Regions from separate parts of the Homo sapiens genome. Here all the other regions are linked to region 3. The links come from fine-mapping of genetic effects on gene expression. A gene starts in region 3. Each other region holds a variant in brackets. All regions are shown on one strand. Distances are between the middles of the regions.

What was found. PIP is the estimated chance that this variant, and not a neighbour inherited with it, causes the effect.
Region 1: its variant is the best candidate, but not a certain one, in a credible set for the expression of BRD1 in whole blood (TOPMed, PIP 0.68).
Region 2: its variant is the best candidate, but not a certain one, in a credible set for the expression of BRD1 in whole blood (TOPMed, PIP 0.87).

Annotation. Positions count from the first base shown.
Region 1 is chr22:49,858,176-49,868,906 of GRCh38, forward strand. All of the region lies in intron 1 of ZBED4 (zinc finger BED-type containing 4), which reads left to right. It also overlaps a transcript of ALG12 not described here. Among named protein-coding and RNA genes, the nearest start is that of ZBED4, 9.7 kb to the left of the region's middle. RefSeq lists an enhancer at 765-1,302. The variant C/T (reference allele first, on the strand shown) is at 4,486.
Region 2 is chr22:49,789,530-49,800,260 of GRCh38, forward strand. BRD1 (bromodomain containing 1) reads right to left here. Exons shown (of 13, transcript NM_001304808.3): 4 at 9,459-9,590; 5 at 9,029-9,157; 6 at 8,276-8,588; 7 at 4,505-4,765. Among named protein-coding and RNA genes, the nearest start is that of BRD1, 33 kb to the right of the region's middle. The variant A/T (reference allele first, on the strand shown) is at 4,197.
Region 3 is chr22:49,822,828-49,833,558 of GRCh38, forward strand. It overlaps BRD1 (bromodomain containing 1), which reads right to left and starts at 5,046. Exons shown (of 13, transcript NM_001304808.3): 1 at 4,670-5,046; 2 at 124-1,504. The coding sequence starts at 1,490. It overlaps LOC105377205 (a long non-coding RNA gene), which reads right to left. Exons shown (of 5, transcript NR_188597.1): 5 at 9,622-10,731. RefSeq lists enhancers at 1,722-2,301, 3,511-3,710 and silencers at 4,211-4,380, 5,111-5,180.

The DNA.
Region 1 (10,731 bases), 35 kb after region 3:
ACAGGCGTGAGCCACCGTGCCCGGCCCCCTTCTCAGTTTAGCCCAGACCTGGATGTTGGCTTCTGTGTGGGCAGCTGTTGTGAGCCATGGCTCCTGCTGGAATTTGTGGCAGTTGATGCTGCTGTGCACCCCCAGAATAGGTGAAGGCTACTCAGGTGTAGCCCCGATGGTAGTTTATGTCCTCAGGAGGAGAAACTGCCATGTCCCCGTCTGAACCAGGCCCGGAGTCTTGATGCATAGCTCTTTGCCTCCCTGGGTATACTCGACAGCTTGTTGAGAGTGCGTGTGCTCTGAGTTGAACACGAATATATTTCTGTTGTTTGAAGGTTATTATAAAGTTTCTAACTTACAGAGTTGGCACTCCTACGTCCCTTGCCCCCAGCTGGAGCTACCGTGACTGCCACCAGCTGCCACCTGGCACGTGCTGAACTGTCTTGAAGGAAACTGCAGATATCTGGACACTTCTCTAAGTGTTCTTTCTCCTAAGAAAGGGAAAGGGACATTCTACTGTCTAATGACAGTCGCGTCATCGATGGCGTCTACAAAACGTGACTGTGTCCCTTGGCGTCATCCAGTAGCCAGTCCACGGTCTGAAGTTGTCCCCCAACGTCTTTACTAGCTGTTTTTCCCAACCAGAATCGAGTACAGGGCCACGTGTCACAGTGGCTGTGAGGTCTCTTTGCGTTCCGGTGCCCCCGGAGCACCCCCTGTGATCTGGCGGTGGGAGGCCTGATTTGATACAGGGGCACGTTTGGGGCGCAGGTGATGCTGTGTGCTGCACTGTGGGCGGAGGCTGTCCCATGAGGACGGATGCGACTTTGCTCACTGGCCCTTTAAATTGTGTCCCTGCCCCCCACAGTTGGCGAGTTAGATGAGGGGGTGTCTCGGGGTGTGTGGACGCTCTGCTCCCATCAGACCTCCACATGCTGTTTGCTGGTCTCCCCAGAACCTGTGGGCAGTGGCACCTTGGCTTTAGTATGCTGTTGTTCTTTTTTTCTTTATTTTTGTCTGTGTTTCCCTTCTTTGTTACGTCTTAGAAAATGCTGAGTTCTTTCTCTTTATTACCAATTCTTAGCGGAAGATGGTCTAGTAGACACCTCTGTGGGGGCAAATTTTTACTTTTCCTTTGTCTTCCTTGAGTATCAAGGTGGACTAGTGGATTTTATTTATTCCATGTCATAATCTAGTAAAGCCTTTTGTTTTGTGATGCTCAAATAGCTATAAATGTGACTAGTTGGGAGCCCCTTCCAAGCTGGCCCCTGTGTCCTTTTCACTCCATACGTGGTCCTGGGAATGCATCCTTTCTGGCCCAGTGTCCCAGGCTCACGGTGATGTCTTTCCCAGGCCTGCGTCAGCTGCTTCTCCACAGCGCCTGGGTTCCTTTTAGTGCAGAAAGGCATCTGGACACCGAGGTCCAGGCCATAGACGTAGTCATTGTGCTTGTCTGTTATTGCTTAATGCCCTGTTCGCGGACACAGCTAGAAAATATGTATTTAAAACATTGTGAGTTCAGTCAATTTGAATTATAGTTAAAATTAATTTTAATTTTCATTAAAATTATGTAGTTTTGCGGGGTGTGGTGGCTCACACCTGTAATCTCAGCACTTTGGGAGGCTGAGGTGGGGAGACCACTTGAGCTCAGGAGTTCCAGACCAGTCTAGGCAGCGTGGCAGAACCCCATCTTTACAAAAACATACAGAAATCAGCTGGGCATGATGGTATGTGCCTGGAGTTCCAGCTACTCAGGAGGCTGAGATGGGAGGATCACTTGAGCTCAGGAGTTCCAGACCAGTCTAGGCAGCATGGCAGAACCCCATCTTTACAAAAACATACAGAAATCAGCCGGGCATGATGGTATGCGCCTGGAGTTCCAGCTACTCAGGAGGCTGAGGTGGGAGGATCACTTGAGCTCAGGAGTTCCAGACCAGTCTAGGCAGCATGGCAGAACCCCATCTTTACAAAAACATACAGAAATCAGCCGGGCATGATGGTATGTGCCTGGAGTTCCAGCTACTCAGGAGGCTGAGGTGGGAGGATCACTTGAGCCTGGGAGGTTGAGGCTGTGGTAAGCTGCAATGACGTCACTGCACTGCTGCCTGGGCGACAGAGTGAGACCCTGTATCAAAAACAAAACAAAACAAAACAAAAAATACATATATATAGTTTTACTTAATTTCTTTGATTCTTAAATTATATGTTATTCTGAAAAATCTTAATAATATCATTGGCCTTGTTTTGTGCTAAAATGTGCATACAGTAGGTTGTAGAATTACAATACCACTCCTGTAAGAAAACTGCTTAGTTAACTTTGCAGGTTTTTGTTGAGTTCTTTTTGTCCTTAGTTATCTTCCACTTTGGATGAATAAAGTGCTGTATTTTAAAGTTCCTTGACAAATACTCTTGTTTTATTTTTTATTTTATTTATTTTTCCCAAGAAAGAAATAAGACAAATATTATTTTCTCTGGTTATGTTGCCCATTTGTTTCAGATCATTTTTAGATTTAGGATTTTTTACAAATTTTATGTACAAAATAATTACCTGTTATAAAGGTCAGAACTACATAAAAGCTACCTTTCTTATCCCCACCACTCTTCTAAGCAACCTTTTTTTTTTTTTTTTTGAGACAGAGTCTTGCTCTGTTGCCCAGGCTGGAGTGCAGTGGCTCGATCTTGGCTCACTGCATCCTCGGCCTTCCGGGTTCAAGCAATTCTCCTGCCTCAGCCTCCCGAGTAGCTGGGACTACAGGCGCCCACCACCACGCCCAGCTAATTTTTTGTACTTTAGTAGAGATGGGGTTTCACTATGTTGCCCAGGCTGGTCTCGATCTGAGCTCAGGCATTCCACCCACCTCGGCCTCCCAAAGTGCTGGGATAATGGGCATGAGCCACCATGCCCGGCCTAGGCAACGCTTTTTACTTCTGCTACGTCCTGTAAAAGTAAGCAAAACACACCCACAACTCATTTCCCCTCCTGTCTTTCACAAAAGTTAGCATGGGCTGTTGACACTGTGTGTGTCTGGTTTTTCTTGTTTGTTTGTTATGAGATGGAGTCTCGCTCTGGATTCAAGTGATTCTTGTGCCTCAGCCTCCTGAGTAGCTGGGACTACAGGCACCCGCCACCACGCCCAGCTAATTTTTATATTTTTAGTAGAGATGGGGTTTCACTGTGTTGGCCAGGCTGGCCTCAAACTCTTGGCTGCAAATGATCTGCCTGCCTCAGTCTCTCAAAGTGGTGGGATTACAGATGTGAGCCACCACACCTGACCTGTTTGTTTTGAGATAGCGTCTGGCTCTGTTGCCCAGGCTGGAGTGCAGTGGCCTGATCTTGGCTTACCGCAGCCTCGACCTCACGGGCTCAAGTGATTTTCTCACTGTACCCTCCTGAGTAGCTGGGACTACAGGCGCATGCCACCATGCCAGCTGATTTTTTTCAAATTTTTTGTAGAGATGGGAGTCTCACTATGTTACCCAGGCTGGTCTTGAACTCTTGGGCTCAAACGATTTACCTGCCTTGGCCTCCCAAAGTGCTGGGATTACAGGCGTGAGCTGCCGTGGCTGGCCCCTGCGTGTCTGGTTTTTCTGCTCAGCACATGTATGAATGTGTGGGTCCTATTGACGGGCTCTGATCCTTTGCCGTGGGATGCCGCTGTGACTGACGTTGCCGTGTGTTGCATTTTTTGTGTTTCTGGTGAGGACTGTCTTCAGGTCTGTTCGTAGCGTGTGGTTGCTGGGTGGGAGGATACATGTAATTTTGGTGAGTGCTTCCAAGTTCCCCCGCACAGGCCTGCACCCTGTCAGCACTGTGGGAGAGGGCCTGACCAACAGAGGGCATTACTAAGCATTTGGATTTTTGCCAGGATGGTAGGGTGAGAAGGGGTATCTTGAACGGGTTTTCATTTAATTTGCTTCAATCTGAATGTGAAAAATGAAAAAACTGTGCTTTACTGAATTGGATGTAGCACGGAGCAGTTGAGATCATTGAATGCAAGTGGCTCATTTTGTTAGTAAGTCCCCGAGGGCGGTTGGCCCTGTGCGTGGAACCTATACGGAGCGGCCCCAACGCTTCTGCCGCAAAGTCGCTTGGAAGGTGGTTTCTCTGTCTTTCTTATTTTTTGTGCGGCGGAGGCCTTACTTTTTTGCTGAGACTGGAATTGATCTCCTGTGCTCAAGTCTCTCACCGTGGCCTGCAAGTAGCTGGGACTACGGGCGTAAGCCACTGCGCCCAGCCTAGTGTAGCTTTATAAGTGTGTTTTTAAACCTTTTTTATTTTAAAGTGTGGCACAGATACAGAAACTGAATAAAATCAGTGTCTAGCGTAATGAGTCATATGATAAGATGGACACAGTTGTAACTGGTGCTTGGGTCAAGAGGTGCTTGCCAGCTTCCAGAGCCCCTGTGCGTGCCGCCCCAGCCCCTCCCAGCAGAGGCTGCCTCAATCTTACTGTTACAGCAGCTACTTCCTTATTCTTTGTTGTTTTGACTGAA[C/T]TGAGTACCTCTAAATATTAGTTAAGTTTTTCCTTTTTTTTTTTTTTTTTTTTTTTTTTAGACTTAAGTCTTGCTCTGTCGCCCAGGCTGGAGTGCAGTGTCGTGATCTCGGCTCACTGCAACCTCTGCCTCTTGGGTTCAAGCAATTCTCCTGCCTCAGTTTCCTGAGTAACTGGGATTACAGGTGCCCACCACCACGCCTGGCTAATTTTTGTAGTTTTAGTAGAGACAGGGTTTCACCCTGTTAGTCAGGCTGGTCTCGAACTCCTGACCTTAGGTGATCCACCTGCCTCAGCCTCCCAAAATGCTGGGATTACAGGTGTGAGCCACCGCACCCGGCCAGCCTTTCAGTCTGAATCTACAGGTTACATTATCCACCCCACCTCCCGTGGAAGTATTTTCTGAGGTAACTTGGTGGTTGGACTCGTGCATCTCACGGTCTAGATTTTGCTGGCTGCATTCTTCTGGAGAGGCCCAGTGTGTTCCTCTATCCTTTGGTTTCTTGTAGATTGTGTTTGGTTGGTTGGTTGGTTGGTTGGTTTTGAGGCAGGGTCTTGCTTTGTGGCCCAGGATGGAGTGCAGTGGTGCTCCCGGGCTCAAGTGATTTTCCCACCTCAGCCTCCCTAATAACTGGGACCACAGGCACGCATCACCACACCCAGCTAAGTTTTAAAAATTTTTTTGTAGGCCGGGTGTGGTGGCTCACGCCTGTAATCCCAGCACTTTGGGAGGCCGAGGCAGGCGGATCACGAGGTCAAGAGATTGATACCATCCTGGCCAACATGGTGAAACCACGTCTCTACTAAAAATACAAAAATTAGCTGGGCGTGGTGGCGAGTGCCTGTAATCCCAGCTGCTCAGGAGGCTGAGGCAGGAGAATTGCTTGAACCGGGGAGGCGGAGGTTGCGGTGAGCTGAGATCGCGCCACCGCACTCCAGCCTGGGGACAGAGCGAGACTCCGTCTCAAAAAAAAAAAAAAAAAGTGTGATGTTCTGGCTGAGTTATTGCTTCTTTATGTAGTAGATGAACTATTAAAGATAAACCTCTTCTTATCCACTCTCTGGTGTTATAGTTCATGGAGAAAACTGAAGATAAATGCCTGATTCTTTTTTTAAATTCATCAGTTTTCACAATGATGAATCATTTTCCTATCAGCCTCCAGAGGCGACCAGTTAGGGATTTGATGTTGGTATTGGTGAACTAATGAATTTAAACATATTTGGGATGTTAAATTCTGTCCTCTTTGGACAGTGAGAGCCCCTACAAGCTGGCTCCTGGATCCTTTTGACATCATTCCTGAACTCTCTCAGAGGTTTCTGGCTGTCTGATATGTTCTGTGCTCATCTTGTATTTTTCCGGCTCCAGACCTGAAATAAGCCATTTCTTCAGCTCTGGTTTCTTTTAAGGGCTTGGAAGTTTCAAAACCACAGTCTGCATGTGACAGGTGCTCACTGCTGTTGGGTTGGCCGCTGGTTCTAGGCCTCTGCTGGAGTGTGTGATCTGCTTTCTGACGGCAGGGCGTTCACATGGGTGTGCTTTAATCTTACGTCTCCGTCCTCTTTTTCCACTGAGAGTGCTGGTCTCAAGGACAGTGGAGATGAGAGAATTGGAATATCGCATAATGTCTCATCTGTTTTATCTCTTGCTACAAACATCACAATCTCAAAATAACAATGGCAGTACAACTGCCACCTATATCATTACTGAAAACAGTGAAGATATTTTTTGCCTAAGTCTTCCCATTCTGTGTAGTTATGCAGGGTCTCAACTACAGAGTGTGTAGCCATTACGTACTACAGATGCTTCGCAACTCAGGACACGGCCACGTCCGATAAACCCATCAAAGTCGAAAATGCACTTAATACCTGATTGGAGCCTGGGCATGGTGGCTTACGCCTATAATCCCAGCACTTTGGGAGGTTGAGGTGGGAGGATCACTTGAGCCTGGGAGTTTGAGACCAGCCTCAGCAACCTAGTGAGACCCCCTCTCTACAAAAAATGTTTTAAAATATTAGCCAGGTGTGGTGACACTCAGGTGTAGTTCCAGCTACTCAGGAGGCTGAGGCGGGAGGATTGCTTGGGCCCAGGAGTTTGAGGCTACAGTGAGCTGAGATTGTGTACTGCACTCCAGCCTGAGCGCCAGAGTGAGACCCTGTCTCCAAAAAAAAAAAAAAAAAAAGCCCTGATTAAACCGTCGTAGAGCTGAAAGATTGCGAGTCAAACCATCGATGAAGTTCAGATGCTCCTTGATTGACCATGGGGTTCTATCCCAGCAAGCCCCCCCCCCCCCCCGTGAAGTCAGAAACCACGGAGTCCAGCTATTGTGCTGTGTTTCTCCCCTGCAAACCCTTATTCAGTCCTAGCTCTGCAAGTGACGGCAGCCCCGGGTCTCACTAAGGGCAGGGGTGTGTTCTGAGAAATGCGTTACTCAGCGATGTTGTCGTTGTGTGAACCTCATAGAGTGCACCTACACAAACCCAGATGGTATAACCTGTCACTCCGAGGCTGCAACTCTGCACAGCAGTTACTACACTGAAGCCTGTAGGCATTTGTAACACCGTGGCAAGTATTTGTGTGTCCAAACAGAAAAGGCACAGTAAACAGATGGTGTCGTTATCTTATGTAGCCACTGTGGGGTGCGCTGCTCTTTGCCGAGTGAGGTGTTGCTGTGCAGCACGTGACTGTGTGTGTTAAATGCTTACACGGGGGCCGGGCGCAGTGGCTCACGCCTCTAATCCCAGCACTTCGGGGGCTAAGGCGGGCGGAACTCCTGAGTTCAGGAGTTCGAGACCCGCCTGGCCAACATGGTGAAACCCCGTCTCTATTAAAATACAAAAAAAAAAAAATAATAACCCGTCTCTATTAAAATACAGGTGTGGTGGCAGGCACCTGTAATCCCAGCTACTCAGGAGGCTGAGGCAGGAGAATGGCTTAAACCCGGGAGGCAGAGGGTGCAGTGAGCAGAGATCACACCACTGCACTCCAGTCTGGGCGACAGAGTGGACAAAAATAAAAATAAATGCTCACATTGGGTCCTCATGTTTCTGTTGTGTTTTGGTTGAGGTTTGCTCTCCGGTAGATCTCTCAGGAAGGACTCATGGAACAAGATGTCTTGACTTCCTGCATCTTGATAGTAGTTTTTCTGCATTCATTGTGCTCGAAGGTCAGTTTGGCTTAGTATAAAATCCTTGGTTCACATTTTCTTTTTTTTTTTTTTCCCTTTAATTTTTTGTAGAGCTGGGGGTCTCACTATATTGCCCAGGCTGGTCTCAAACTCCCAGCTTCAAGCAGCCCTCCCGCCTCCACCTCCCGATGCTGATTATACGCGTGGGCCACTGTGCCTGGCTAGTTCACTTTTTTCCTTGAATGTCTTAACTATGTTATTCTATGGTCTTCTAGGATAAAGCATTGCTGTCAAAATCATGACAGTTTTTTCTTTCCAAGTGACTTTGTACTTTGCCTGAGAGCCCAAAGGATTTAAGTCTAGTAATTTTGTTAGAAAATAAATTAGTGTTATTAGTTGAGGATGGATTTTCTCAGTCCCTTTCACTATGTGGCTTGACAATTTCTAATTCAGGAAAGGTTTTTAAGTGTTTAGTATTCTGTTCTCTTGCCCTGTCCCCTCCTGTTTCTGGGGTGGCTGTTCTGATTGTACATATGTTGGATCTTCTTTACGTGTCTTTTAAATTGGTCCGTTTCTCTTGAGTCTTTTTTAATCCCCTCATTTCTTTTTCATTAAAAAAAATTGTGTTTCCCTTTCATTTATCTTAAGCTGTCATCTGTGGAGTTTGTTCTCCTGTTTCTTCTTTTTTAGGTCTTCATTCTTGAAGTCATATTTTACTTTTATTTTTAGTGTTTTTGTGGGACCTATAATCTCACATCAGAATTTTTCTATCCTGATTTATGTTGTTTCTTTATATCATTTTCTTAATTTCTTTAGTTTCTTTGCAAGAGGAAGTTACCGTTTTCATTTAATCTGAGGTCACATTTTTCTGTGAGCATATTTCGTTATCTGCAGTGATGTTTTTCTGCTCTTTAGTTTTTCTCATACCCTTCTGTGAGATGTGACAGAATTCTTTTCTGTTGCCTATTATATTAGTTTTCTAGTGCTGCTTTAACAAATTACCACAAACCGAGTGGCTTCACACAAACGGAAATTAGGAATCTGAAATCTGAGATGGGTCTCACTGGGCTAAATCAAGATGCTGGCGGCTCTTGAACGGTGGCTCTCGGCAAATGCACGTTCTTACCTCTTGCGCCTTCAGGAGGTCACCTGCCTTCCTTGGCTTGCATTGGTTTGGTTTGCTGTTTTTTCTAGTGTTTTCTTTTAGGTGAGTACTTTATTGACTGGAGGTCATCTTTTCTAACACAGGTATGTAGAGCTTTCAGTTTCTTGCTAACCACCACTTCAGCTGCATCTCATCCATTTGGTGGGTTGTATTTTTATTGTCGTTCAGTTGAAAACACTTTCCAGTTTACCTCACGGTTTGTTTTTCACCCGTGAGTTATTTAGAATTGTATTTTGTTTTCAAATAATTGCTTATTTCCCAGATTTCTTTCTTTTGCTTTATAATTTAACTCCATTGTGTTTAGAGGACTTGTATAGTTTCAGTCCTTTTGAAATGCCCAACGCGTATGTTATGGGCCAGCATGTGGTCTATACTGTGGGAGGTTCCCTGGGCCCCTGAAGAAGCGTGTGCCAGGCGGCGGTGGGAGCGGCGGTTGGGGAGGCACTGCGGTGCATCCACTGGGTCAGTTGGCTGACGGTATTGCTCAAGTCTTCTCTGTTCTCGCTGACTTTCTGTCTAGTTCTGGGTGGCCTGGTAGGCCCAGCAGCTTCTCTTCATGGGAGTTTTTGCCCCAGAAAGAAGTGTCAGCTGTTTTGTTTTGCCCCAGATCGGACCTTGGACCCTGACCCTCCTCTGCTTTGCAGATGTGCAGAAAGTCACCCACCTCAGCAGCTTGGTTCTGTGGGCCGTCCAGTGATACCTGTTGGCTACTTGGGGATGCTCGGTGTATCACACGCTTGATGACATCTTTCTTTTCCAGCTGCCAGATCTAATACCATCTAGGCCTTGTAATACTGACTGCAAGGGGGCTTCCATCCTGATACACCCATCCATCATCAATTAAAAATATCTTCAGTGGAAAATGCATTTAATTCACCTGATGTGCCGAGCATCATAGCTTAGTCCAGCCCCCCTCAAATGTGCTCAGACACTTACATGAGCCCACAGTTGGGCAGAATCACCTGACACAAAGCCTGTTTTGTCATAAAGTGTTGAATATCTCATGTAAGAGTGTCACACCGTATGTTGTTAGCCTAGGAAAAGATCAACATTCAGAATTCAAAGTACAGTTTGTACTGAATGCCAGTGGCTTTCACACCATCGTAAAGTTGCAGGTTCGTAGGTTGAACCGTCATTAAATCAGGGACCCACTTACCCATATTCATGGTTTGTCCCTTCCACTTACATTTGTTGGTTAACGGAAAGACCTTGTCAGTCTTCTTTTTTGTTGTTGTTGATAACATCAGAGGATTGTGGTTTTACTGTTCTAGTTTTCCTTTTATTGAGAGATTTGGGGAAACTAAAAAATAAAATATAGGCAGTGTTACAAGCAAACAAATGAGCTTACTATATTTCAAATGAATAAAATAACTACACTTGAGGAAGGAAGCTGGCTGAGGCTGGTGGATCACCCAGGATCAGGAGTTCGACACCAGCCTGGGCAACATGGTGAAACCCCATCTCCACAAAAAATGCAAAAAATTAACTGGGTGGTGGCACACACCTGTCATCCCAGCTACTGAGGAGGCTGAGGTGGGAGGATTACTTGAGCTCATGAGGCGGAGGTTGCAGTGAGCCAAGATTGTGCCACTGCACTCTAGCCTGGGCAACAGAGCGAGACTGTCTCTTCCAACAAAAAAGAAAAATGAAAACTGACCCAAGAAACTCTTGGACACGATGTGATTATAAACCTCCAAGTAAAAAGATAAAAATTATAAATGAATTGTGATCTCCAGCTAGAAGGCTTGTTTTCTTGGTGGCCTGGGTTAGTAATTCTGCAGCTACTTCGTGCATGTGTTGTAGGGTTGAGCAAATGAGGAAATCTGCCAGGAGGGTGGGAGCCCAGCCTCCCAGAGGTGGATTGAAACGTCACGGATGCAGGCCGGGCGCAATGGCTCACACCTGTAATCCCAGCACTTTGGGAGGCCAAGGCAGGCGGATCACCTGAGATTGGGAG
Region 2 (10,731 bases), 33 kb before region 3:
CAACTGCTCACTGCAATCCCAATGGCCTCTGCAGGGCCAAGGCCAGTGGTCAACCCCAGTCTTGGCCTCTATGGGTGCAACAGCACCCGGCCAGCAGAGATGGAGCCTGAAGGAGTCTCCTCCCAGCACCTCCGGGAGACCCCCCTTCCCCCAACCACCTACAGCCCACCTTCTCCACAGCTATCTAACGGGCACCGTAAACCCCCATCTCCTGCTTCTGGTGCAACCCTCAGAACCACCACTCCTGTCTGGCAGGAGCCCTGAGACGTGCAGACGTCCCTGCCTTGCAGCAGGCCCTCCCCAACCATGGTCCACAACCCCTCCTCCACACCTCCAGCTCTCGGCCCAGCTAGGATGCCCCATGTGGGACTCATAACCATCTCCACGCTGCAGGGACTTCCCTAACCCCTGGTCTATCCCAAAGCGGGCCCCTGTGGCCCTGTCTCAGCCATGCATGCACCCCACACGCCCCTGGCCTCTCTGCGGCAGCTCCACATGCAGGCCGGGCTCCAGCCGCCAGCACGCAGGCTAAAGGATGCGTTCCTGCAGCACTGACCAGAGGCACAAAGGAGGCCGTGGTCAGGAACAGAGGTCGCTGTCGTCTGGGTGCTCAGCCACCTGCCCAGCCGGGACCACACAGGCCCCTCCCCCAGCCGGGACCACAGAGGCCCCCGGACCGTTCAGTGCCTCAGTTCCTCATCCATAAAATCAGAAAAAAACAGGACCTGAGCCTCCAGGCTCCACGACACAACAGGCAAGCCCAACCCGTCCCTCGAGTGGAAATGTGACTGGAAGTTGACATACAAGAAGGAAGACTCCTCTCAAAGCTCACTGACTCTGGGCCATCTCAGGCTGTCACTGAACTGCACATGGGAAAAGCTCAGAACATGCTCGATACAACTCGGGCATAAGCCTCTCAGACCCCGTCAATGTATCAGTCAGGATCCTAGAATTCCAGTCCCTGGAACTTGTCACATATTCCAAATGGCAAAATGGTTATCTAATCCAAACCAGCTACTCTAAGAAACTAAAACCTAGTTAAGTCTGCAAGAACAATTCCGCAATATTTTGCCCACCTGGCCACCTGCTATGTCAATCAAAGGTTTCTGTATCGAAGCCACAAGACGCTTTGGAAAATCACAGCGTAACACAGGCAGACATTTCAGCTCACGAGCAGCAACCACACTGTCCCTCCAACAACCCTGCCTCAAGCCTCCGTCCTCTGCAATCCTGAAGGGACAAAGCTGCGTACTCCGCACCTTCTACCCCGAGGAACATGCATCCTTCCTTTCCTGAGGGCCACAGTTCTCCACGTGCTCAGCGCCCGTGCACGGCAGGGGGACTTCCACACGTGCACTTCAAGGGACCACAGCTGCCCTGGACTAAAGGGGACGCCCCGGAGCCTCTGGCAAGGGCATCACTGTGACTGGAAATCCCAAGGACTCGAAATGCAAGCCCCTTTCACCAGCTCACGGTGCGGACCCTGCTCCTCCTGACTGCACTGACCTGCCTCACCATGTCAGCAGACACCAACCTCAGCACAGGGTGGAGACAAGCCCTCTGCCAGCTGCAGATCCGTCCCACAGGCTCATCAGACAGGCTGGAATCCCAGCTGTGGCGTGGCCCCCACCCAGCTGACACGCAGCCCCGGGGAAGTCAGCCCTGGCAGGGCCAGCTCACAGCAACAGCCCGAACCTCTGCACTCGGCAGACTGAGTCGCGGCTACGGCAGAGCCTGCGGGAGGGCCTGTACAAGGGGCAGACCGGGGCCAACAGTGCAGCCCAGGAGGCATCTCCTTCCTTCAGACACTAAAGTCTCAGGGGCCTGGCACTCAACGGCTACAGCCTTGTTCAAGCTGCTTCAAGTGGAAGCAAAATATAAACACAACACACAGACTGTTAAATTACAGTTTAAGTGAGACTGTGTATTTGCCATTGAGGAATTACTCTTTTCAGGTGTGAAAATATTGTGGTTATATTTAAGAAAAATGATGGAGAGGCTTTACTGATGAGAACGTTCATGCTGGGTTTTTAAATGTCTGATTCTTGGTTTTCATCCTATTATAAGTATCGTAAGTCACATTTCTATACCAACCAACAAGCTTGCTTGTGGCTGTCTTCCCTAATGACTTCCCCATTCCAGTCTGGCACTCGCCTCTCCACAGACCCCCATCTTCTCTGAGGGGCAGGACCCCGCCCGCCCCACCTCTCCAGAGACCCCCAACTTCTCTGAGGGGCAGGACCCCACCCGCCTCACCTCGGAGTGGACTTTCAGGCCACTTGCTTCTCCACCCACCTTCCCATCAGCTCACAGGAAACGCCCTTTTCATCAATTGAGTCATTGTGAACATTGGGTGTAACAGGTGATTCGAGGCCACCTGTGTCTCAGTCACATTGTGTTTTCCTTACAATGGCCCCAGAAAAAAAATAAAAATAAAATGATTCCAGAGCTACAAAGCAACAAAAATGGTCTCCAAAGGCTCCTGCTAAGCGTTGGGTGTTATGAGGAGCCACGCTCACCACAGCGGAGGGCCAAGCAGCTCCAACCATGCGAGGTCCTCAACCATGCGAGGTCCTCAGTCCTGTGACCCAATAACCGTGCGGGGTCCTCAGCCCTGTGACCCAATGGCAATGGAGGAAGCCACTGATAAAAAAAAAAAGCTAAAAAGGTAACTTACTGCTCTACAGTGAAAATGGTACAACTGTGTGCGAAGAGAAGCGCTGGAAGCTATTTTGAGAATGGTGAGTGGACCTGCTGGCAACCTCCTCACAGCTCAGTCCTCAGGGCACAGAAGACAAGGACAGAAGGGCAGTCCACCTAGAGGGAGGCCCACACAGCCAGAGGATGCCTCGGTGGGCTGCACGGAAGCAAAGGCTGCGGGACCAGGCACCAGCCTGGACTCCTGGGCACAATGGGGCGGCCCAGGGCCCGGACAGGTATGGCTGCCAGAGGGTCCTGTAGGCAAACGTTCCTCAGAAAAAACACGAGGCCCCCAAAGCAGAGGAGGGATCACGTGCCAACAATAACAGCCTTTGGGAGAAGAGAAAACCAAGCGCTCACCTTGAAATAGAAAAGCCTTTATTCTATGGACCTAACGTAATTGACGCCAGCCCCAAAAGAGACATTCTAGAGTCTGGGTACTATACTATGGTGAACTAAACAGAAGAATCCCAGAACAGAACAACAAACAGGCACAAAATGAGCAAAAGGATGCATAAGAAATTCTCAGCTGTGTGCACAGGAGTAAGTTTCTAAGAGAAAGAAAAGCTTAATGGCTCTCATTCAAGTTGCCCAAATGTAAAACAGGATAAAAGGGGCGAAGCTCTGCAGACAGGAGCCACAAGAAGTTCAGGGGATGAAAAGGGCCCTGAGACCATGGGGACCCGCTGACCTGTGTGGCATCATGAAGACACTGCGTCACTCCGAGCACAGACGTCCATAAGAGATGAACGTCTTTGTTTTAAAAGAAAATTGTACAACAATTCTGTGTCTTATTTCAACTGTCTGCTGTTCTGACTTGGATGTGCAGGGGAAGGGCAAGAAGGCTGAGAACCAGCTGCCAATGTTGTGGCAAGAGGGTCTGACCCTACTGTCTGCTTCGTGTAACCGGAGCGTGTCAAGGTCAACTGCAGAGACACACGGCAAAACACAGTGGCAATGACTTTCTATCAACGTCTCCAAATCCGATTTAGTTTTAAAATTCCTCTTTCACCAAATATGGGACACACCAGCTCTACTTCCTCACCCTGCCAACCTAGATGTACACAGACCATCGCTCGTAAACTCCCTCCTCACCATGCCAAGCCTGCATTTGCCCTGGGTTTTGCTAGTTCTCCTTCTAGATAGGCGGATTTCTTCTCCTACATTTATTTCTTAGTCATAAAAACATCTTTGCTGCCTGGACCTTTCCCCAGACATTCTTTGGCAACGATCACGGCTGCTACCTACCAACTCTGCAGAGGAGCTGGCCGGGGACCCTCGGGGCAGACAAGGCCTCTGCAGGTACCGTCCCTCCCTTCACAACATCAGGGAGGAGTGTTTAAGTGCCAATAATCTAAAACAGCCCTTTCAAAATGCTGCATTTGATGGCCTAGCGCACAATTAAATGGCTCCCCGCCAATTTACAAAATGCAACAAAAACATTTCTCACTCTCATCATTCAGGCTACCTTTACTCTTCAACACAGTGTAAGATCT[A/T]AACCATTCTTTTCAAATAGTTTCTCAGGCCCAAGTTAAAGAGAAAAATTTTATTCTGTGCCTTAAATTTTATCAACTGATTATGTGAGAAAACACAGACAGCACAAATGATAACGTCTCCTTAAAAGGAAACAACAGCCCAGTGGGAAAATCAAGTGTTCCGGGATTTGTGAATTTTACGGAACTGGCGCTAACCTGAGCCTCCGTGCACACCAACGCTGCTGCCCGTGTCTGGGTCTGTGCCTGTGCCTGTGCCTGAGCCTGAGCCGTGACGGCAAGAAAGCGGGGCAGCCCTCACCGTGGCTTACCTTCCTCGCCCGCCTCCGGCCCCAGCGCAGCTCCGTCCTCTTCGAAGCCTTCCAAGCCTGGCCCCGTGGGCAGGGGCTGGCTGTGCTGCTGGCTCAGCTTGTTTCGGAGAAGGGCAATTTCCTTTTTGAGCAGCTTTGCCCGCTTGCTCCGGGAGCCGCTGGACTTCATAGCGCAGGTGAGGTCGAGCATGTCCAGCAGCTCTCTCAGCTGCTCCTCCAGGCCCAGGTGGGCTCTGTTGGCGGGGTCCAGCAACCTGTCCACTGAACCAAAGGACACATGCTGTCAGTCATCAGGTCCCACGCACCTTCTGGGAACACATCACCGGTCCCGTCTTTCAAATCACCTTCGGCCAAGGCCCTGAGAGTGGCTGTTAGCAACGAGGCCCAGGCCCTGCTCACCAGAGGCCCCTCCCCTGCACTCTGAACCCACGAGTAGCTGCTGCTACAGGAACACACTGGGATGCTCCTGATGGAGAATTTCTACTCCCATGACACTGTCAGCACAGAAGGGGCAGCGTCCAGGTAAGATCGCAACCTCTCCTGGACCAGGACCCACTGAGGCTGCCTGTGCAGACAGCCTGGCTGCCTGGGTGAGGGCACAGCACACAGACCCCAGAGAGAGGCGCACGCTCCACCAACCCAGCACAACTCAGCTGGACCTGCGCTGGCTCTGCAAACAGAGGTGACGACTGGCAAATGTGTTAAGTTAGGGCCATTGCACGTCCTAAGTGGTGTCTTAGCTGAAGTCTTCAGATGCTGATCATTGTGTGGCTTTAGTAAACGGGTTGTAAAATTCACAGATCATTCTGAATTTCAGACGTATTTACTACAAAGTCCCTAGAAACTTCGCTTTCAAAAACACCAAAATTTATAAAGCACAAATTACCTTAAATAAGTAAGAGATGGCCAAGAAAAGAAACTGCTCCTCAGAGCTATCTGAAGATAAAACCAGAGCAAGAAGGAGAGAGAAGACAAAAAAAAAAGTAAGACTGCCCAAAAACACATGAACTCTCTTCATCTAGAAACAGGTGTTTTACTGAAAGCATCTGTCTCTTTGGCTGAATAAATAAAGTAGTAGAGAGAAACAAATCAGTCCTTCAAGACTCGTATCCATAACATCACTCTGAACAAATGTCATAGATAATACTCAAAAATGTTCATACAAAAAAACATATCCTTTGAAACCCCAAGAAGAAAGCCTCGAAACGTCTGTTTCTTTCAAAACAGAGACCCACGGCCTCCAGGTCTGTGGCTCAGGCTCCAGGCAATGGGAGGTGTCGGCCGTGCTGAGAAGAGCAGCAGGTGCACCCTCAAGGCACACCATGGCCACTGGCTCACCTGTGCACTCCCAAATACTGAGAAAGAAAGAAACCAGGACTTCTCATCCTTCATTTTCTCCTTAGCAAAAAAACCCGGGTGTAGAAATTCACTTAACAACTTGCATGACCATGATCTGAAAGGCGCTGACACTCAGAGGCCTCCACACCTGCTCTGTTCGAGGGAGGTGGCATGGTGCTGGGAGCATGATGTGGGGGAGCACAGGAGCAGGGCCCTAGGGGCAAAGGAGGCTCCGGGCTGCTAAGAAGACAGGGAGTCCAAGAGTGATGCATCTTCCTGCTTTGAAGGGCAGGCAACCAGCGTACGTCCTGAGCAGCCAGCAGCGGGCACCAGGTGGGCGTCTGAGAGCTGATGGCAGGCAAGGCATCCAAGCCAGAGCGTGATGGCTGTGGGAGGCGGGGGAAGCTTTCCCACGGTCACCAGAGGCTAGAGAAGGACCTTCCAGGACAAGCATGAGCCCATGGAGCCCTGGGCTCACTCTGAGGCGGCTCAGCCCTGGCTCCTCTCAGGTCCCCAAGGGAATGTTTCGGAAAAGGATAGCTGGTCTGATCAGCCTGGAGAGCGCAGCTTCAGAGAGGGGTTAAAGCTCCACCCGGGTTCACCAAGAGCCAGCAGCACTGTTTGGAGCCTGTGTTTATTTTCTAAATTTCTCCAAGAAAAACGTGTTACTCTTAAAATCAGAAAATCAGAGACAAAGAATAAAAATATATTTCCATTGTGTTTTCTTTTTTTTTTTTTTGAGACAGTCTTGCTCTGTCGCCCAGGCTGGAGTGTAGTGGCGTAATCTCGGCTCACTGAGAGCACCGCCTCCCGGATTCACGCCATTCTCCTGCCTCAGCCTCCCGAGTAGCTAGGACTACAGGTGCCCGCCACCATGCCTGGCTAATTTTGTTTTTGTATTTTTAGTACAGACAGGGTTTCACCACATTAGCCAGGATGGTCTCGACCTCCTGACTTCGTGATCCACCCGCCTCGGCCTCTCTCTTTTTTCTTTTTTTTTTTGGAGATAGGGTCTCACTCTGTCACCCAGGCTTCAGTGCAATGGCACAATCTCCGCTCACTGCAGCCTCCACCTCCCAGGTTCAAGCGATTCTCCTGCCTCAGCCTCCGAAATAGCTGGGATTACAGGCATGCGCCACCATGCCCGGCTAATTTTTTGTGTTTGCAGTAGAAACGGGGTTTCTGCATGTTGGCCAGGCCGGTCTCAATCTCCCGACCTCAAGTGATCCACCCGCCTCGGTATCCCAAAGTGCTGGGATTACAGGCATGAGCCACAGAACCTGGCCCTATCCCCAGTCTTTAAAAGAGTACAGCCCATCCTCCAATCCTCACAGGTGCCGAGTGCTGCGGGACCCCACGGGAAGCAGGGAGCCCAGCACTGCTGCCATGAGGGGAACAGAGGGCGAAGCAACGATGGCCCAGCTTGGTTGAATCCCATGATGGCGGGAAGCGGACCCCACGATGGCGGGAACGTGGACCCCGCGATGGCGGGAACGTGGAAGAGAGGAAGAGGGCCAGGCCTCATCCCAGAAGAAGCGACCTAGCACGGGTCAGTGATTCATCAAGAGAAAGGGTAGGCCAAGAAATCAGGGATATGGGACCTTTAGACAAATAAGCCAAACACACCGTGATTTCTGCTCAGTTTGTGGCTCAGAGCTGGAGCTGAGGTGCTGGAGCTCTATGTGCTTTGACAACCCATGTGGGCAGGACACACCCTTCGACAGACAATCCCAGAGGTGCGACTAACAAGCAGGGTGCAGGGGACAGCCCCGGTTTCCGAGGACCAGTCTAGAGAAGGGTGCAGGTGACTACACATGGCTGCAACACGTGCCTGGGCAACCAAGAAGCACAAGCCCAGGCTGGAGTCCAGGTGGGCCGTGGACACACTCCCAGAGCCCTTTCTACAACATGCGCAAACCACGAAGTTAAAGGGCTGGAGGCAAAGCCAGAGATCCTCCGGCTTCACGCCACCCTCAGAAGTTAGCCGAGGCCCACTCTGGATGAAAACCCCCAACTAAGCTGCTTTCTGGGTCTGCATCGTCGAGACCGGCCACCCCATAGGGAGCCACAGCCACACAGTCCTCTTGGTGGGCACCCAAAACGCAGCCAGTCTGAAGTGACAGGTGCTGAGCGTAAAATACACATCAGATGGCAAAGAAGGTGAAAAGCTTATATATCCTCAGTAACGTTTACCGATCCCATGTTGAAATCAACTCTTCCATACACTGAGTAAAATAAGACATATTATTAAAGTAAATTCCACCTGCTTCTTTTCCATTTTTCAGTGAGGCTACTAGAAAATGTAAATGATGTATGCGGTTGCATGCTAGTGGCTCCCGGACCATGCTGATAGGGAGCTGGCAACACAGAGCAGGACAGAGTCTGCTAGAAAGAGCGTCTTCCACCTCCTCCGGACACGGCGCCAGTTCTTACCGTCTTCCCAGGAGAAAGGCCGCCGCGGTGCCGCAGCAGGCCGCTCAGGCAGGTGCATCCCCGAGGCCTCTTCCAAGCCGATGCTGTCCACCTCGCGCCGGGCCTGCCTCAGAACAACACCTCCCTGATCGCGCAGCCTCACCGCGGCTCTATAGAACACGGTGTCCCTGGCATTGTACTTCATGCAGTTATCTATAATGAGATCAAAATCCTCCTCAAACTCATGGAGGTTTTTATACCCTTGAGCTTCTAACCGTTTCCTCATTGTGGCAAAGTCCATGGGATGTTTAATGTGATCCAAATAATCTGGTACCTAATTTTAGGGAGGAAAAAGAATCATTTACAAACTAAAACAGGATATTAGTTGACTCTATATTTATTATTCCATATAACCCACAAGCCCATCCTATCTGAGAGCCACACACAGACACGCAGACGGTACAGACATAAGACCCAAGTACTGCAGGGACCTTCCCGACCCCAGCTCCTTCAGCTAAAGCACGCTGGAGGGTGCCGGGCGGATGCTGCCACAGCCCAGGGTACTGTCTGCACAGGGCCTCTTGCCCACTGCACTTTCAGTATTTTACAATGAAATGTATCACTTTTATAATTTAAAAACAAATACGTTAAATAAAAACGAGAATTAAGAACACAAGGGATGTACTCTAGCCAATCACACGTTTCCCGGTCAAACGGCAGCACAAATCCACAGTCACACATGCGGCAGGACAGACGAGCGCCGCAAACACCCACCTCCTTCAGACTCACGGGCTGCGCAAATATCCTGGCGGGGTCCTTGTCTTGCAGCTGGTCCAGCACTGAGCGCAGCAGCACCGTCAGCGGGGTCAGCCGCAGCTCCATGGCGACCTGCTCCACCTTCACCTGGGGGGGCCCAGCAGAGCCTCAGCTTTAGGGAGCCGCACATGCGTCTCAGCCCCACCACGCGCCCCACAGCCACAAGCAGCCCCCACAGGCTCCTGTGCTTCCGTCCAGGCATAGGACAACGCAGCCTCCACTTAGGGCTCTGCAACCCATGGCAGCCAGGCACCCAGCCTGGGCTGAGCAAGGCACTGCTGTGGGCCAGGACCCACCGGGTGCAGCCCACCCTCTGCAGGAGCTGCCAGCGTCCCACCCACGCCCCGTGGCCAGTGGTGCACTCCACGCGGGACAGGCCCAGCCCCACCTGCTCACGCTTGAGCTTCTCCCGCTTGCGCAGCAGCTCGATCAGCAGGCGAGCGCGCTCCAGGTCGTGCCGCAGCCGCTGCCAGTACTTCAGCTTCTCTTTGGCAGCCTTCATCTCCTCATCATTTTCTCTCTGAGAACAGTGAACACTTCCGTCAGTCAAACCCAGAGGCTCCTTCTGCAAAAGGCCTCAGATACCATGCAGGTGAGACCCCAAGAGGCATCCACGTCAGGGGTCCTGCAGGCCCATCCTGGGGAGGACAACAGACCACCCTCACTAGAGAGCCCCAGGACAGCACCGGGACAGAGGGGACAGAGGAGACAGAGGGGATGGAGGGGACAGAGGGGACCGCCAGGCCAAGGTGAGCAGGGGGCTGGCCCCGGTGCACAGGTTCCACCCTCCAGAGAGGACAGAGGCCTCCGCAAGCTGGCGGCGGGGGGGGCCTTCACAGAACCAGAAAGGCCCACAAAGGCGGGGCCAGGACAGAATGGGGGACCCTTGAGGACCCACCTCCAGGACAGCTGGGAATGGAGGGAGCGGCTGGAAAGAAACCAGGTGCACAGAAAACCACATGCTGGGCCCATCCTGGCTTGGACAGAGCATGACGGGGGCCTGGCACACAGCCGACCTGCTGCCCTGCCCTGCACAGCGCCTCCATCCCGACACACGTTTCCCCACAGCCAGGGTCCCATTTCCATTGATAGCACCTGCTCCCTTCTCAGTGGACAGAAGAGTGCGCCAGACAGCACAGGCCGCCAGCCTCAACCCAGCCAACATCCACACCAGGGTGATCAGAAGAAAATCAGAGCCCTGCAAAGGCCATGACACAGATGGTCGCAGGAGAGTAGGCCACCTGGGTCTGCCCTCAGCCCTGTCCTCACCATGTCCCCCAGGCCTGGCCGCATGAGGCCTGCTCGTCACAGTGCCGGGGCACCCTGACCCTACCTCAAAGGGGAGAGGAAGTCAACGAGGGAGTTGGCCTGAGTGGGCCCCCAACACCTGTCATCCTCCACAGCTGCAGGACACGCGCGCCCTGCCAGCCTCAGGACAGCCGTGGCCATCAGTTTCTGGCACATGCTTCACAGCCCTGAGACCCTCCTCTCCCCCAACGCCTCTGTCCCCGGGTTCCCACCTGCCCACCTCAGGGTACTGTCATAGCTTTTCAAAGGACCGAGGGTGTGAAGGCAAAGACTGCTGGACTACAAGATGCAAGGACCCCGGACTCCAAACTGCTCAGAAAAGGAGGCTCAAGGAGGGAGGCCGAGCCCCGCAC
Region 3 (10,731 bases):
TAGGAAGCTGCGCCAACTAGAAACGCAATGACCACACAGCACGGGCCCTGCAGGCTGTGCCCACGTCCTCCCAGGGTCCCACACTGCAGGCTCCTTGTGGACTCAATGCTTGGACACGCTTACCTCTGCGGGGGAATATAAGGAGCGCACACGGTCGGCAGGACCGCGCAGGGCTCAGCCAGAGCTTTCTTAGCCTTTTTTGCCTTCTTCCTGACCTTGGATGTGGACCTGACCGTTTTAACCGAGCTCTCTTTTCGACAGACGCCATTTTTCATTTCGACATCCCCGTAAATATTCAGAGGCCTCCGGGTGCAGCCTGGAGGCGTGTGGACATCACAGTAAGCGGTCTTTCTGACGGAGAAGGTGGTGCCACCGCCAGTCAGTTCCTTCACGGGCTCCATTTTCATGTACAGGCCAGCCTTCTGGGCACACGTCACATGGAATGCTGTGTAGCAGTTTGCTTTGTGGCACTGGATGCAGGCACCCACGCCCTTCTGCTTACAGAGGTAGCATGTCAGTTTCCACCGGGCTGGAGGGATGTTCCTCACCCCATCGATGGGCTCGATGAACACCGTGTTGGCAAAGCCGACCTCTGGGATCCACAGGGCACACACCACGTGACCCCAGCGGTCGTCATCTGTCTTTTTGAAGGCACCACCCTTGTTGGGGCACAGCACACAGTCGGCGGGCCGGGCCCGCGACTGCAGGCAGTGGCGGCAGAGCCACTGGCCCTCGGGGATGTAGGGCACCCCGTAGCACTCCTGGTGCACGGCCAGGTTGCACATGTCGCAGAAGAGGATCACGTTGCTGTTCTGACACTCCCCGTCCATGCAGATGCAGCACACGGCGTCCTCGTCGATCAGAGACTGCTGCTCGCCCTGCTTCTGGTTCTCGCAGTGCGACTCCTTCTCGAAGCGGTCCATCAGGAACTCAAACATGCTCTGCGACACGGCGGGGACGCAGTCGCCCTTGCGCTTCTCATTGACGATCTCCAGCCAGGCATAGTCCTCCTCGTCCATGTCATACTCCACCTCGTTGTCCAGTTCCTCGGCCGACTTCTCGATGAACTTGTAGTACACAGGAGGCCTCCTGGGGGCGGACGGAGGGCTGTACTCCACGATGCGCACCTTGGGCTCCGGGAGGGCACTGGCCGAGGCCGGCGTGCCGTGGGCGCTGGGGAGGGCCTCGTTTTTCTTTTTGACTCTGTTGTTTTTGTGACGCTTAGTTCTTAAGCAGACAGGAGGCCGCTCGCTGTTTTCCTTGTTGCTGTTGCACTCACTCATCTCTTGAGCAGTGAGGTCATCTTCCAATATGATCTCCAGGGGATCAAAAATACTGATCCTGTGCAAGCGCCCTTCAATTTCTATCTCTACCATCCTTTGAGCTTGAGCGTAGGTCAGCGTTTCTCGCGTAGGGGAGTGTTTAACACTGCATGGGGAAGAAGGATGCCTCGCTGCAGAGCCTCGATGACATCGTCCTTTCCTCCTCATTTGGTAATGATTACCTAAAATGAAGGCAAAAGTAAAGGTAATTCTACGCAGGGTGACCAAAGACTCGAGAAAACCACAAAAGCATGCTTGGACAGATCTAGCTCAGCAGCTCAAAGCCCAATCAAAGCAAAACTCACAGCTAACCTCTTTCCAAGGTGTCCAAAACCACACATCCAGGCCTGAGCGAGTCCCCAGGACCAGGGAGGGAGCAGCAGTAACAGGCAGAGAGGCAGCCTGAGGAGCCCTCCTGAGCACCTGCGTCCCTACCACCACACACCAGTCCCCTCTCAGACCACACCAACAGGCTGCGGAGACCACAGCAACGCTCCCCAAGGAGGAGGGGTCCGGCCCAGAGCCCACAGTTGCAGGACTTTCCCAGCATGCAGGCGGTCCCCCAGGAAGTCCACATACAGGGCTGGACCCCACCAGGCACAGAGGCTATGCCCACCAGACAGGCATGCTCAGTGGCTACCTGGTCCTATCGGATGCTCCCCCTAAACCACTCTTCCCCTCCCCACTACTCCCAGGAGAGCACTCCCATGAGCCCAGAGTCACCACAGTCCTTGCAGCATTCCTGCTGGGGCCAGGGGTAGGAGACAGATCACAGCCTGTCCATCCTCTATAGACAGGCCCTCCACACGCACAACACGGCACAGGGGACCAACAGGGGAGCCCTGTACTGGTCTGAGGGGACAGTCTTGGCCCCTGGGAGGCCCCAACCCCGCTTCTGCAGAGCCTTGGCAGTGACCACCATGGAAACCACCACAGGCTGAGCCAACCTGCCCCTTCCCCTCAGGGGCACTCCTCAAGCCCCACTGAGACCATGGTGCTGGCCACGTCCTCCTCCTTCCACGTCCTCCTCCTTTCTGAGAGAATCCAGACACATGCATGACGCCAAAGGGAATCTCTGTTCTCCCCGGCACACGTGAAGGCAGACGCTCCACTCAGGCTCCACAGCGAGGGGTGACCCCCAGGAACCCCTCGCTGCTTGCAGAGACCCTCACCAGGAGGGTCGCCAGCGCTGGCTCAGGTGCCTGAAGACTTGGCCACAGAGGCTTAGGAGAATCTGCTTTTCCAGAGGTAGGCAAAACCAGTGAGCTGCCTCCCATACCTCCAGCTCCTCGTGGCAGAGGCCTCTGCTGTCCCAACACCACGGACTGCGTCTATTCCTAGCTGTCCCCAGGGTGCCTGGTGTGTGGACACCTCCTGTGAAGACCACCGCCTGCTGGGCAGTGCCTCCCTCCAAAGCGCCACACTTCACTGACAGGAAGCAAAATGATTTTTCAGTGACTGACTCGCAAAACAAATATTCTCAGCTGAAGCCCAAGGCATACTCTGCATCTAGCCCTGCCACGTCAGGGACGCCTGGCCTCGGGGCCCAGGGGGATCAGGGGCACCCACAGCAGCCTTACCCTGATCTATTGGGCCTGAGAAAAAGCCCTCAGGGAGCAGGCTTCCCTCTGTGAGTCCCGAAAGGAAATCCCAGCAGACTTCAAGAGCACTTCTTAAGACAGACCCTCCAGACACTGGGTATCTTTCTCTGTATCAGACAGAAATCCTCATTGTATGTTGAAACTAGATTGCAATTACCTACAGAAAGGAATAGGAGAGAAAATGTGGTCGGCCAAACCTCAGACCCCCTGCATCTCCAGGGCCTCCAGGTACCCACTCAACCCTGGATTCCTGGGGAGCTGTCAGCACAGCCACCCCCCAGCCGGCCCCGTGAGCCCTGCAGAGGTGACACCACAGCCTGCAGAGAGCGACCCTAGTGCACCCGGGACGCCGACACGCGTCATTACTGAGGTGGGGCAGAAGCAACAGTTGGTTACTCACCAGATCAGAAACGAACCTGTCATTTTCCCCTCGACAGCAAAGTCCTGAGTCGCCCTAACGACAAGCAGCCCCTGGAAACCCACTCTCTCCCAGGGAGCCGTGAAGCTCTTCATCGCAACACTTTCTACAAGGGGAGAACTGAACCGAAGGCTTCACGGCCACAGCAGCTCCATACCCTCAACATGCAACTGGGACCCGGGGAAAGTAGGCCCTCAGCAGGGCAGGGCGACCCACGACCTCCTCTGCTTCACCGCTTCCCCCCTGGGCCGGTTCTGTCCCTGGCCCTTCCACTGGGACAAGCATTTCCACTGGGAGGGATCCGCGGGGGCACACACGTAGCTTCTCAAGGAATAATTCCCTTAAGTACATCGAAGAGCCCTGCGGGCCACAGGCGGGGAAGGCTGCCCACAAGACGGCCGCTTCCATCTTCCCACCGCCCGCCCAGGGAGAAGCCGGCCACGCGCCGGGCCTCTCGGTCAAGGCCACAGGGGCCGCGGCCGCTGAGCTGTGCGAAGTTGTGTGCAGCACACAGCACTCGGGACGGCGCTGGGCCGGCCAAACAAAAACATCCGCCGATTCCACTAACTACACAACCACCTGGCGACAGACCCTCAAAAACAGACACGGGCGGCCGCGCTTTCTGGGGAGACGGGGCCGCACCCCGCGGGGCAGGGGGTCCCGCTGCTACGGATTCTCAGAACTCCCGCGTCCGCTCACAAGAGCCGCGTTTCCCGTGAACTGCGCCTCAATCGTGTCACTCGTTTTAAAAGGCCCGGGGAAGCCTCGCGTTCGTCGCGAGGCGTCTCCCTGCAAACGCCCGGGGAGGCCGCGGTGCCGGTTCCCAAGCCCGGCCGCCGCAGGCCGCGCGGCTCCTGGGCGATCTCGGGGCGCGTCCCTGCTCACAGGGAGTTCCCGTCTTGGCAGAGCTCGGCGGGCCTGTCTGTTACATAAGGGGCGGCCCGGCCGGCTCGGCGGCTGCCCGAGGCCCGACCCGACTCGAGCGCGGACTCCGGGCAGGCGCCCGCGGCCCAGGCCGCCGAGACCCACAGCCCGACTCGGCCTCCCTCGACTCCCCGGCCTGACCTACCCGGTCTCCCCGCCCGGCCTCCCCGTCTTCCCGCCCGTCTCCCCGGCCGCCCGGCCCGACCTCCCCGGTCTCCCCGCCCGGCCTCCCCGGCATCCCGGGCTCCCGGCCCGCAGACAATGCGGAGCCGCCGCCGCCGCCGCCGCCGCCAAACATGGCGTCGGCACCACAACCCCGAGAGGCCGGGCCGAGGCGGCGGCGGCGGCCGGGCGGCCCGCGAGGCGGCGGGGAGGCCTCCCCGGCCAGGCCCCCGCCCACTCACCTTCGGGGCGCCGCGGCCGCGGGAGCCCGGCAAGCGGGCGGGCGCGGGGGCCGGCGCGGCCGAGGCGGTGCTAATGGCGCCCGCGGCTCCTCCGCCAACGGCCGCGCAGGCCGGGCCCCGCCGCCGCTCCTGGGCGCGGGCCCCTCTCGGCCGCGGCGGCTCCGGGCCCGGCAGCGGCGGCCGCGGACTCTCGGGCAGCGGCTCGCGCGGCGCGGGCTCGGGCTCGGGGCCCAGCTGGAGGCCCGGCTCGGGGGGCCCGGCCGGCGGGCGCGGGCGCGGGCGCGGGAGCGGGCGGCGGGCGGCGGGCGCGGGACGCGGGGCTGGCTCGGACTCCAGGGCCGGGTCGCTCGCTCGCTCCCCAGCGAAGCAAACAATGCGGCGAGCGCTCCGCCCGGCGCGCTGCGTGCGAGACGCGCCCCGCCCGCCGCCGCCATGACGCGCGGACTCCGCTGCCTCGGCCGCGCGCGGGGGAGGGGGCGCCGCGAGGAGCGGGGGCCAAAGGGGGCCCTGAGGCGGCGGGGACCGGGCTGGGAGTGGGGGGTCGGGAGGATGGAGAGTGGGGGCCCTTGAGTTAGGGAGGACCGGGCCAGAAGGTCCCTGAGGGGGTCAGGAGGATGGAGAATGAGGGGCCCTGAGGCAGGGGGACGTAGGCCTAGGAGTGGGGGGCCCCGAGGCAGGTGGGGAGCAGCCGGGAGTCGGGGGCTTTGAAGCAGGGGGGTACCGGCTGGGAGTGGGGGTCCCTGAGGCAGAAGGGCATTGGCCCAGGAGTGGGGTCGCTGAGGCAGGAGATGGCCCAGGAGTGGGCGGCTCTGAGGCAGGGGCTACCACCGGCCTGGAGTGGGGGGCCCACAGGCGGGGGGACGGGCCGGGAGTGGGGGTACCTGAGGCAGAAGGACATTGGCCCGGGAGTGGGGGGCCCCGAGGCAGGATGGGGGAGCAGCCGCCAGTCGGGGGCCCTGACGGGGGAACGGCCAGGAGTGGGGGTCCCTGAGGCGGGGGGGACCAGCTGAGAGTGGGAGTCCCTGAGGCAGAAGGCCATTGGCCCAGGAATGGGGGGCCCTGAGGCAGGGGGCGATTGGCCCACGAGTTGGTGGGGGCCTGAGGCAGGGGGCGATTGGCCCACGAGTGGGGGGAGGCCTGAGGCAGGGGGCGATTGGCCCATGAGTGGGGGGCCCTGAGGCAGGAGGCTATTGGTCCGGGAGTGGAGGTCCCTAAGAGGACAGAGGGGGCCCTGCGGGGGCACTGGGTGGGAGTGGAAAGGGCACTGGCCGGGACACGCGACTAGGTAGAGGTGGGTGGTGCAGCCGGGCTGGGGAGCCTCCCCTAGTGAGTGTCAGGCCCGGTGTGCAAGTAGTCCTGCCAGTGTGAGGGCCCTGCCGAGGCCGGCGTGAAGCAGATGCCCTTTAAGGTTGCAAGAAAAGGCCCCTGCGGGTGGGAGTTGAGAGGCCTGAGTCTCTGCCTTCACTTTGGCCTTTTGTGTAAACTCTAAAATTCAGTGGGGTCATAACAATTTTCACTCCAAGATTAAATCCCAAATGTTTTAAGGTGAGGCAGGAGCTCCTTGGTTTCCTTGAGAATTTGTGATCAGGACGATGGTGCTGTGGAATCCCTGGGTTCCAGCAGCACAGCCTGTGGCATCCAGGCAGGCCCCTCAGGAAGAGCAGCTGTCCACCCTGGGACAGACCGTCCCCACGGGGGCAGCCGAGCGGCCCCACTGCTCGGGGCACTGCACCAAACACCTTATTGGGAGTGGGGTGGCCTTGTTCGCCCAAGTGTCCCTGATAGGGGCCAGGCCCCACAGGCCTTTTCCTGGCCAGTCCTCATGCCCATGGCACCCAGTGTGTGGGTTGTGACGTGACGACTCAAGGGCAGGTAGGACCCCAGCCAAGGCCCCAGTGGTCAGTCCTGATCTAGGACTCCCTGCAGACACACCCTTGAGCTTAGGGGGTACAGGCCACTGGGGCCCTGACCTCTTCTGCACCAGACCCAGGAGCTTCGTGTCACCTCCATTCTACAGATGTCTGTTTACCTGTGGCCAAACAAGCAAGCTGAGCCCGAACGCTTCTCTCCTCCACCTCAGGGAAGCCAGATGGAAACCAAGCTGGAGGTTCTCCACAACACAGAGCAAAAGTAAGACACAGTCTCATGAAAGAGAAGATGAAAAGACACGAAACCCTTCACAGAAGAGGAGACGGGGACAGTGGCCTCTCAGACAATGCAGGTGATGCTCAGAGGAGTGAAGAACAAAGCCTCGAACGTAGGCATGTCACAGGGATACTCAGGAAGGCCTTCGGAGAGGATCTTCTTTAGAATTCAGACTCATCCTACAGAGGAGGGGTTGCCAAAATACTAAGAGAATTGAACCGTAACTCATACACAGTGAAACTAGCGTTCCAGTGAGACAGCAAAATAAAGGTGTCTTCACCGCCGGTTAACATCCACATTTACCACACACGCAGTCTGTAAAAGTACTAGAAGAAATACCTTAACAAAGTGAAAAGTGGACCCAAGAGTAAGACGTGGATGCCAGCAAGTAAATCAGTCTGGTCCGTTAAAAGAAAATCAACCTGAGAGAAATCCCGGATGAACTCAACATGACACATGGTAAGGCGGGGCGCAGAAGGAAGTGAAAGTGCACGAAAGCTCTTGTATTGTTTGGTTCGAGGATTTTAGAATCGATAGAAAAAAAGGTTAAAAATTTTAGCTGGGCATGGTGGCTCACACCTGTAATCCCAGCACTTTGGGAGGCCGAGGCGGGCAGACTACCTGAGGTCGGGAGTTCAAGACCAGCCTGATCAACATGGAGAAACCCCATCTCTACTAAAAATACAAAAAAAAAAAAATTAGCCGGGCGTGGCGGCGCATGCCTGTAATCCCACTACTTGGGAGGCTGAGGCAGGAGAATTGGTTGAAACTGGGAGGTGGAGGTTACAGTGAGCTGAGATGGTGCCATTGCACTCCAGCCTGGGCAACAAGAGCAAAACTCCATCTCAAAAAAACAAAAAAAAAAAGTTTTAACTATCAGAAAGTTTCCACAAGAATGGTGGAAAAAGAATTTACCACTTTCAGAACAGCTGAGGAAAAAGCGAAATGAAAAACGACAGCAGCAACAACAAAAAAAAAACAGGAATGAGTAAAAGATAAAATCATGATAAATACAGAACATAATATGAGTTGGCAGAACTAAGTTCAAACATTTGAGTAATCAGAGGAATGTGATTGGATTAAATGCATCTATTAAAAGACAACCTCTCTGAATGGAATATAAATATGGTGAAATATTCTTACAAGAAATTCACCTGAAAAATAACAGATGAAAAATAAAACGATGGGGCCAGGCACAGTGGCTCATGCCTGTAATCCCAACACTTTGGGAGACCGAGGCAGGTGCATCACCTGAGGTCAGGAGTTCAAGACCTGACCAACATAGTGAAACCCCATCTCTACTAAAAATAGAAAAATTAGCCAGGCATGGGGGCACGTGCCTGTAATCCCAGCTACTCAGGAGGCTGAGGCAGGAGAATCACTTGAACCCAGGAGGCTGAGGTTGCAGTGAGGCAAGATTGCCCCACTGCACTCCAGCCTGAGTGACAGAGCAAGACTCCATTTCGTAAATGAAAGGATGGAAATTATCATATGTTTGTTCCTCAAAAGGCACCATAAAGAGACTGAAGAATGAAAAACTAAAAGATATGTACACCTTGCAGATGATTAGTATTTAGAATATATAGAGAACCCCTTCAGATCCATTAGAAAGAGACAAACAAGCCAACAAAATGATGCACAAAACCCAAATCAACAAAGAAACCCATGTCATAATCAGGCTTCTTGCAGAGAACATGGAAAGGCCAATCATCTTACTAGTAAATTTGGAAATGCAAACAAAATACACACCAAATAGGCACCAGCGTTCATATGTGGCAATACTCAGCGATGGCAAGATGGCAGAGCAATACCCTGCTGGCCAGAATGTCGAGTGGGACAATTATTTGGTAAATATCTTGGTCATAAGGCGTTACCCAGTGAAAGTGGACATGTTTATCAGTTACCTCTTGCTGCAAAACAAACCACCCCCAAAACTTTGTAGCTCAAAACAGCAGTCATTCCTTTTGTTCACACATCTGCTATTTGGGCAGGATTCAGCAGGTACAACTAGACTACTTCCTGCATCCTTATCTGGGGCACCTCCACTAGGGGCTGGAGGAGCCACTTCCAAGATGGTGCACTCACGTGGCTGGGACCTTGATCCAGGCTCTGGGCTGAGGGCCTTGGGAACATCCTCATGGAATAGTAGCCATGCTGCAGGAGCAAGGGTCTCAAGAGAAGCAGGTGGGACCTGTATCACTTTTCACATCCTAGCTTCTGAAGTCACACGCATCACTTCTGCCATAGGGACAAGCCTGTCCAGATTCAAGAGTTAGGGAGAATACAGACCCCACCTCTTGGGACATGTGTTATCATCACATTTTAAGAGAAGCATGCTGTATGGGAGAAGTTGTTGTGGCCACTTTGAGAAGATGCAAGCTCCCCCAGTGTGCATACCCATTCCCGGCTGTAGGGTTAAGTCAATTTGTATTCCTAGGTGCATTCCGTGCCTGGGTGTGTGCCTAAGAAACCTGTTCATCAGGGCCGGGCGCCGTGGCTCACGCCTGTAATCCCAGCAGTTTGGGAGGCTGAGGCAGGCAGATCATGAGGTCAGGAGATTGAGACCATCCTGGCTAACACGGTGAAACCCCATCTCTACTAAAAATACAAAAAATTAGCCAGGAGGCTGAGGCAGGAGAATGGTGTGAACCCAGGAGGCAGAGTTTGCAGTGAGCAGAGATTGCGCCACTGCACTCCAGCCTGGGCAACAGAGCAAGACTCCATCTAAAAAAAAAAAAAAAAAAAGAAAAGAAAAAAAGAAACTTGTTCATCAGGAAGCATGTGCATGAATGTTCAGAGCAACACTGTTTTTGGTGTTTTTTTTTTTTTATTTTAACGCTGTTTTTAATAGCAAATACTGGGAGAAATCTTAAATATCAAAGGACGGTAAAATGGACAAAGTGAGGTGTATCCACGCAATGGAATAGCACACAGCAACAGAAATGAATGAATTCCACCACCAACACGGCCAAATCTCAAACACATAATTTTAAATGGAAGAAAGAAATCTCAAAAGATTACAGAATATGATTCCATTTACACTCAGCAGACAGAGCTAGGAAATAAGTATGTACAAACACACACACACACACACACACACACACACACACACACACACACACACCCATATCTTTTCTGATACCTCTTAGCAAACCTTGAGTTCATACTGATACCTGTACCTCCAGTTACAATCTAGCATGGAGTTGATTCTACCCTCCTCTGTTTCTACATAACTATCTATGCCTTCACTTAGTAGCTCAGTCCCCCGCTACATAACCATCTCTAGGCTATACAGGACAGAAACTTGGCCCCAGACACAACCACTGCCCCCCATTTTGCACCAGCCAAAAATGCGGTTCTGGGGGCATCACTGCTCTCCAGAATGGTTATATCTGCAGGCTGAAAGCACAGCCCAAGAAAAGGCAAGGAGGAGGATGCTCATGTTGTTTCTGATATTCTGTTTCTGGCAGGAATAAGACAAAACCCTTCTTCTTTGATCTATCTCACCTTTAATTTATTTAATTTTTATTTTTACCCGGTATCTGCAACAATCTACTTTAGGAGACTATCCTTTCACAAACATTAAAACGTTCTTTAAATGGTGTTTTTCTCACTTCAGAATTCAGGAAAAATAGTTTTACTGACATTTACTTTTAATAAAAACGTAGTAATTTGCATTGTTGCAGTAGAAATTTGTCCTCCTTGTCACCAGGATATAATCAGACAAATTAATAGTGGAGCCCAGGCCTTACATGGGTGTCATATTTGAGAATAACTTTCCTGTGCTTCCACAACACGCCCACCTTTAAGGAACAAGGGTTGTGGCTTGTGTGCTGAACCAATGCCCACACAACCCTCAGACCCATACTGGCCGGGCACCTGTACTCTGGCACACAAAGCCTCAGCCTCACAAGTAG